2 linked regions of the Homo sapiens genome follow. The protein of the gene in region 1 purifies or fractionates together with the protein of each later gene. This does not show direct contact. Each region holds a gene or a part of one and is shown in the gene's direction. Other genes may lie near its edges.

Region 1 (4,541 bases):
CCGGGGCCAACCCTTTTCAGAGCTCTAGCAGAAGGACGCCCCCACTACACTTGGCCCAATACCTGACACCCGCCACCACCTGTCTCACAGCCACGTGGGGTTAACTCACCAGGCAGATGGCACCTTGAGCTGCTGCGGTCGGCCACTCACTTCAGGGTCCAGGCCCCACCGCCCTTTGCTTGCAGCTCTGCGCGCTCCTTTGGCCTCCTCACGCCAGCTTACAGCTGCCGTGTCTTCAAACTCTGTGCAGCCCTTCCTGCGCGCCTAGCTGCGGGGTTCAGCTCTGCGTGATCGCCGGCTGGCAAGAGACTGCGCCGGGGAAGGTGCGCGCCGCAGCTTCCAGCGCGCTCCTGGACGCTCTTGCCTGGGCGGCGGGAGCCCGCACAGTCGGAGCCGCAGCCGTAGGCGTCTTCCCGGAAACCTCCACACGCTCCACCGCGCCGCCCCAGGAGTTTCGGCCGAGGTGCCACACCCGGCGGGTGTTCGGCTGGGGGGCGTTGCAGGGGAAATGGTCTCTACGCGCGCTCTTTGGGAGGCACAAGTGCACCTGTGGACACAACTCTGGCGCCGGCAAGTCTCCTTGATGCGCACAGACATCCAGGCTGCCGCCTGCGCTGCTTAGAGGAGGCTTGCAGACACCGGCAACCGGAGTGGGGATTAATACACTCTGTTTCCCTTCTCCGCTCGGCATTCAGTATTTAAAATGCTCCGGGAGAGCTCTAGCTGAGCGCAGGTACTTAAGAAAGAAATGCTCTTTCCAGACTCTCAATGGAAACTCGGAAGCGTGCGCGCGCGCGCGTCTGTGTGTATCCTGGGTGGGGTCCGATCGAGTCAAGGTTGCTTGTGGTGTGACACCCAATTATTCCTTGCAACTCCTCAACTTTGTGGATGAAAGTGCGACTTTCCCAGGCCTATTGCCGCGGGCATTGCCTTTACAAAACCACAAACACAGAACAAGCCTCCTAAGGCTTTTAATTTTCGGGGCGTTTGGGGAGGCCAGTTACCTGCCGGCGTCTTCTAAATGGTCCAGACTCGGTTCGGGCCGCGGAGACTCCGGGATTCCGGGAGCGGGCAACCCCGAGCCCTGGAGGAAGAAATAGGTCTGCGGAGGTGGCACAGATCTGACCCGGCCCAGCCCGGCCCAGCCCGGCCCACCCAGGCCCAGTGGAACCAAGCAGCGAAACCTCGGATTTCACTGCCGAGGCTTCCTAGCCGAGGCTTTCTGGAGCTTGGCGTTTGATAAATATAGCCTGGCGTTTGCCCCTGAATTAGACTCCGTTTCCTTATTTAGCCCTTGCACAATGATTTTAGATGATGTCACTTAGAGCTAAACGAGAAAATTGATCTCAGATTTGCTTGGCCTCTAAAGCCTGGTTAAGCAGATTGAGAATTAGAAAGGCAGAGGAAGCAAAAGGGGGGTGGGGATGGGGGGGTGCGGAGGGTAGTGAAGTGTGCGCGGCAGAGTGTGTGCGCAGAGGGGAGGGCGCGCCAAGCGGGTGAAAGCGCCCCCGCCTTTTCTGGGCGGGGAACCTCACTCACCAATGAAAAGTAGTTACTGACTGCAGATGAAAAAAAAAAAAGTTTTCCTGTTGACTGTTGGAAGCGAATTGAGCAATTATCTAGTTTACCTTCTCCTCTTGGAAGTTAACGATTGGCGAGATCTTGGCTGCGTTATTGACACAACACTTTCTATTGATAGAAATAAGTAGTGATTGTCCCCGAGTCATTGGTGCGCCAAGAACTCTGCGATGGGCTGGCAGGAGTCCATTGGGCTGGGCAGGCAGGTTCGGCTGGTGATGCTGGGGAGGAGGAGGAGGAGGAGGCTACTGGTGGTGATGGTGCCCGTCCCCCTCTCCGCAGGTCTGTGACAAGCAGGGAACAAGGCAACGGACGGCGCAACCCAGCCCCGGCTGACGGACGCTGGCGACTCAGACATGGACAGTAGCTGCCACAACGCGACTACCAAAATGTTAGCGACTGCTCCAGCTCGGGGCAACATGATGAGCACGTCCAAACCCTTGGCTTTCTCCATTGAACGAATCATGGCGCGCACCCCAGAGCCCAAGGCCCTGCCAGTCCCCCACTTCCTGCAGGGAGCCTTACCCAAGGGGGAACCCAAGCACTCTCTGCATCTCAACTCGTCGATCCCCTGCATGATCCCCTTCGTGCCTGTGGCCTACGACACGAGCCCCAAGGCAGGAGTGACGGGCTCCGAGCCGCGGAAGGCCAGTCTGGAGGCCCCGGCGGCGCCCGCGGCGGTGCCCTCGGCTCCCGCATTCAGCTGCAGCGACCTGCTCAACTGCGCACTGAGTCTCAAGGGCGACCTGGCCCGCGACGCGCTGCCGCTGCAGCAGTACAAGCTGGTAAGGCCGCGTGTGGTCAACCACTCTTCATTCCACGCCATGGGCGCCTTGTGCTACCTGAACCGAGGTGACGGCCCATGCCACCCGGCAGCCGGCGTGAACATCCACCCGGTGGCCTCCTACTTCCTCAGTTCCCCTTTGCACCCGCAGCCAAAAACGTATTTAGCCGAAAGGAATAAACTGGTGGTCCCGGCGGTGGAGAAATACCCTTCTGGAGTAGCTTTCAAAGACCTGTCCCAGGCTCAGCTGCAGCATTACATGAAAGAAAGCGCCCAGCTTCTGTCGGAAAAAATCGCGTTCAAAACCTCGGATTTCAGCCGAGGCTCTCCTAATGCCAAGCCCAAAGTTTTCACTTGCGAAGTGTGTGGAAAGGCAAGTACAATGCAAAACGGAGATCCTTTCCTTCCCTCCCTTCCTTCCTTCCTTCCTTCCCTCCCTCCCTCCCTCCTTCCCTCCTTCCTTCCCTCCCTCCTTCCTTCCTTCCTTCCTTCCTTCCTTCCTTCCTTCCTTCCTTCCTTCCTTCCTTCCTTCCTTCCCTCCCTCGCTCCTCCTTTCCTTCCTCCCTTTTTAGTATTTTGGGGGTAATTATTTGCATACACTTTTTGTTAAGATTCTCTTCCTCCTACCCTCTCTCTGCCCGGTTTGATTTCAAAGTTACTTGTGCGGCTAACCTGTTCTACGTGTGTTTAATTTTAAGGTCTTTAATGCGCACTATAACTTAACCCGTCACATGCCAGTGCACACAGGAGCCAGACCCTTCGTTTGCAAAGTGTGCGGAAAAGGTTTCAGGCAAGCAAGCACCCTGTGCAGGCACAAGATCATTCACACGCAGGTGTGTTCATCTGTCTCAATTTCACCTAGTTTGCTTCCGAACTGTTTGCAGAAAAACAGCCGATAAAACCTTACTCTTTAGGATAACGTTCATTTAAAAAGTGCTAGCTAAACAGGGTGAATGCCATGTATTGTTTGCTTTTGTTCTGCTTGAAAGTGTTTAAGCATTACTGTGTTTTGAGCTTGCAGAACTTCACATAATTAGAAAATATCTAAATGTCTCTGCTTTTCCTTTCTCCTGCTTAGGAAAAACCTCACAAATGTAACCAGTGTGGCAAAGCATTTAATAGAAGTTCCACTTTAAACACTCATACCCGAATACACGCGGGCTACAAACCGTTTGTGTGTGAATTCTGTGGCAAAGGGTTTCATCAAAAAGGTATGCAAACCAGGAAATGTCTCTCATGGTTAGTCTTATGAAAAGCCATACTTAATACTTTCGGGATGTTTTAGAAGACGATGTTTAAAGTGTAGTTATGTGGCACTTTTGTTGCCATTCTAACTCCCTACTCGAAGTCTGATTAGTATTAGAGAAAAGCATGATTCATAAAACAAGGGTATATGTTTTAACTGCATGCTCTCATTGTATGTAATTGGACTGATAAATGTGTATTAAAATTTAAGGAAACGGCATCACTGTTGATGCGATGCTTGAAAATAAACTTGGGGAGACAAGTGCAGGCACAGATAGTAGCCCTGCACTTGTTGTGGGACCTGTGGCGGCTCTTCTGCTTGCCTGGCGCTACCTTCCACGTGTCTGCTCCTCCCTTTTTAAGCTATTTTTTTTTTCAGAACCATATTCCTGTCATTTGTGTGTTTCAGGGAATTACAAAAACCACAAGTTGACCCACAGCGGGGAGAAGCAGTTCAAGTGCAATATCTGCAACAAGGCTTTCCACCAGGTTTACAACCTCACCTTCCACATGCACACCCACAACGACAAGAAGCCTTTCACCTGCCCCACGTGCGGCAAGGGTTTCTGCAGGAACTTTGACCTCAAGAAGCATGTCCGCAAGCTGCACGACAGCAGCCTGGGGCTGGCCCGCACGCCAGCTGGCGAACCAGGCACTGAACCGCCGCCCCCGCTACCGCAGCAGCCGCCGATGACGCTGCCTCCTCTGCAGCCGCCGCTGCCAACCCCGGGGCCCCTGCAGCCCGGGCTCCACCAGGGCCACCAGTGATCGAGGCTAAGGGTCCTCCCAGCCTCAGCCGTGCCCCCACGCTGAGGCAGCGGCAGACTAGAGCTCCTGGTCCGAGTTCGTCTGCAGACCCCAGGGCATGTTGGGCCCCACACTTCAGGGCCGACCAGAAGCCTCTGCATCCCCTGGCCTTTCGCCTCTTGCATGC
Region 2 (2,994 bases), on another chromosome or scaffold:
AATCTCAGGCATAATTTGGGAGGCCAAGGCAAGAGGATCTCTTGAGCCCAGGAGTTCGAGACCAGCCTGGGCAACTTAGTGAGACCCTCTCTCTACAAAAAAAGTTTGAAAATTAGGTGTGATTGGACACATCAGTGTCGTAGTCCCAGCATCTCAGGAGACTGAGGTGGAAGGATTGCTTGAGCTCAGAAGGTCGAGGCTACAGTGAGCCATGGTCACACCACTGCACTGCAGCCTGAGTGACTGAGGGAGACCCTGTCTTATTAAAAAAAAAAAAAAAAAAAAAAAAAAAAAAAAGCAGCAGTACTGTCCATGACCACCTTTCACCTTTCCTTGACTGGGCTTTCTGTTTGGTCAAGGAGCACATTACATTTGCATTTGCTCTAAGTCCTCCATACTCATGGGATTTTCTTTCAGTATTTAACATTTTTGATTATATGTTTCTTTCCTAGTCCAAAGAATCCTCATCGGTGCTTAGCTGTGACATCTCCGTGGACGACAAATACATTGTCACTGGCTCTGGGGATAAGAAGGCCACAGTTTATGAAGTTATTTATTAAAGACAAATCTTCATGCAGACTGGACTTCTCCTCCTGGTAGCACTTTGCTCTGTCATCCTTTTTGTTCACCCCCATCCCCGCATCTAAAACCAAGGATTTCAGATACTCATTGCAGTTGTGGAGTTTAATCCCCTTTCTTAACCTCACTTCCCACTTGCTATTGAATTGTGAATAGTCATTAAAAACCTGTGATACCAAATCTTCAGCTGTCTACTTGGAAGAACATGGAATAAGCATACTTAACAGTGAAAAGAATCTTTAATTATGTATTATATCTGTAATATATTTATTTTGTTTAAAGAAGGCTTTCTAACAATGACTGACTAAATAAAGCTGTCTGCTCCTGCATTGATAATGAAGGTGCGTTGTATTTGATACCCCTCCCCCCCTTTTTTTGGCAAAGGAGGGGAAAGGAAGGTTTAAAATAATTGATTTAAAATGTCACTAAGTGTAGACTGATGACTGTATAGAGATGTGAAATGTATAATTACACATGGAAGCAATATGTTGCTGTGTTGTTATTAGGTTTTTTTTGTTTTTGTTTTCTACATCTTTTAAAGACTTTTGGAAATTTGGCTGAACAATTAGAACACAACAGGCCAACTCATACTCATTTGGATCTATTTAGACAACGTTAACCAATATATCTATAGCTTTAGATTATATTCGATAAAAGTAATTGGACTTTTTTTCTTTTTTTGACTCGTTGACAAGTGTCTTTGTAATATGTTTTTAGTTCCCTTTTTTTGTTGTATTATAGGCAGATGAACAAATTAAATTTGGCCTCAAAGAGAGAACTTACTCCCTTCTGGATATTTTTGCCACATTTCTTTGCAAAAGGAGATATATATATCTTTAGTCAGTTTTGTTGTTATGAGAAATTATGGGTTATTTTGTGGCATGCTCTTTGGGAGCTGCACAGTTATGGGGAGGACTCCCACTGCTGTGCAAGTTAAGTCTTTTACAAAACAAGGACAGCAGAGGAGGGTTTGCAGAGACCTCCCTCTGAAAAACACAAAGAATGGACTCTCTCCTGGGATGAGGACTTGCTTTCTTTACCTCCGGTTCTTTCCATGTCTTAGTTGGATGTCCCTGAAATGGACACAGGCTGTGCCATTGTGCCAGAAACATTGTGTTATCTTTTATGTTGTTGTTGTTGCTGTTAAACTATAATATGTGACTTCTTTTTTTATTATTTTTTGTTTGAATGCTTTAAAAATCTTTTAAGTCTGTGGATCTGCTGATGTACAGTGCCTTTGCTGCTATGGATCAAAATCAAAAGAACCGTGTAGATATACTTTATTGTATAAGTAGAAAATTACTTAATTTCATACTAGAAATGGATGGATGCTGCAAGTTGAAATGGACTGTCCATTGACGTTCCTAATGTGGTAGCAGAAAAAAAAAAATGGTGTCTTAAGTGCTTAGTGTTTGATGTCATTAACAGTTTCGTAAAACTCTACAGTGTAGAAAGATTTTGATACTAAACTGTGCGTTGTACATAGTTCTAATGCATTGTATTGACCACCAGTACTTCTATAATGGTAGATTGTTTGTGAATTCAGACTTTTAAGCATTAAACATAAATAACTTCTAGTATGCTTATTTTTCTAATTCTTTGTCTTGATGACATTAGTTTATTTTTTATCTTTGGCTGTGCCACTCCTATATATTAAAAATGCCTAGTTTTTTCAAGGGAGATTGTTGTTAAAGTAAAGTGGTTTTTTTTGTTGTTAAAGTAATGTGGGTTTTTTTCACTGTTGCTGTTTTTGTTTTGGTTTTGTCTTTACTTGAGAGGAGCTAGAAAAGGTAGGTGATAGAAGTTAACAGTGACCAGTTGGTGCTAAATATTTATTGAGTACCTCTTTGATTTATAAAAATACTGCTTACCAAAAGGTTATCATGTCCCTCAAACCCTTGATGCTTTAGAGCTATGCTGTTCAATATGGTTACCCTAGGCATTTGTGGCTCTTTAAATTTATTAAAGTTAAATAAAACTAGAAATCTAATTTACCAGTCACACAAACTACATTTCAAGTGTCAAGTAGCCACATGTGGCTAATGGCTACCGTATTGGACTAGACACATCAACACGGGCTTTAAGTTAGCCAATGTAAACCATTGCCAGCCATGTGGATTTGGGAAGCATTTCTAGCATAACACACTGAGGTCTTTACACCAGGCTTCTTGGGCTGCTACTGGTTGGGTGTATGAAGATTCAGTATAAAGAGGAGTTTAAATTAAGAATTCTAAAGTGCTGGGACTCAAAAATCCGACATTTTAAGGTTCTACTAAGTAGGAGGATTGGAAGCCCCACAGTAGTCTGGAGGGATCATCTATAAGAGATACTTCGGTTGCTGAGTTAAGTACAGTATTCATCAGTTGGACTGGAAGCCGCACTTCCATTGTGATACCATGTGCGTTGTTACATCAA

Evidence for each region. Proteins that work in one complex are often made in the same cells at the same time.
Region 2: the proteins of FEZF1 (region 1) and TLE4 purify together in Homo sapiens (affinity purification with mass spectrometry; one large-scale study listed by BioGRID and IntAct). This does not show direct contact.

Annotation. Positions count from the first base shown.
Region 1 is NC_000007.14:122,301,831-122,306,371, reverse strand, and holds the start of FEZF1 (fez family zinc finger protein 1), read left to right. Parts: upstream 1-1,621; 5' UTR 1,622-1,934; coding exon 1,935-2,735; intron 2,736-3,060; coding exon 3,061-3,195; intron 3,196-3,440; coding exon 3,441-3,573; intron 3,574-4,016; coding exon 4,017-4,375; 3' UTR 4,376-4,541. UniProt on the Homo sapiens protein: Transcription repressor. Involved in the axonal projection and proper termination of olfactory sensory neurons (OSN). Plays a role in rostro-caudal patterning of the diencephalon and in prethalamic formation.
Region 2 is NC_000009.12:79,724,585-79,727,578, forward strand, and holds the end of TLE4 (transducin-like enhancer protein 4), read left to right. Parts: intron 1-452; coding exon 453-560; 3' UTR 561-2,298; downstream 2,299-2,994. UniProt on the Homo sapiens protein: Transcriptional corepressor that binds to a number of transcription factors. Inhibits the transcriptional activation mediated by PAX5, and by CTNNB1 and TCF family members in Wnt signaling.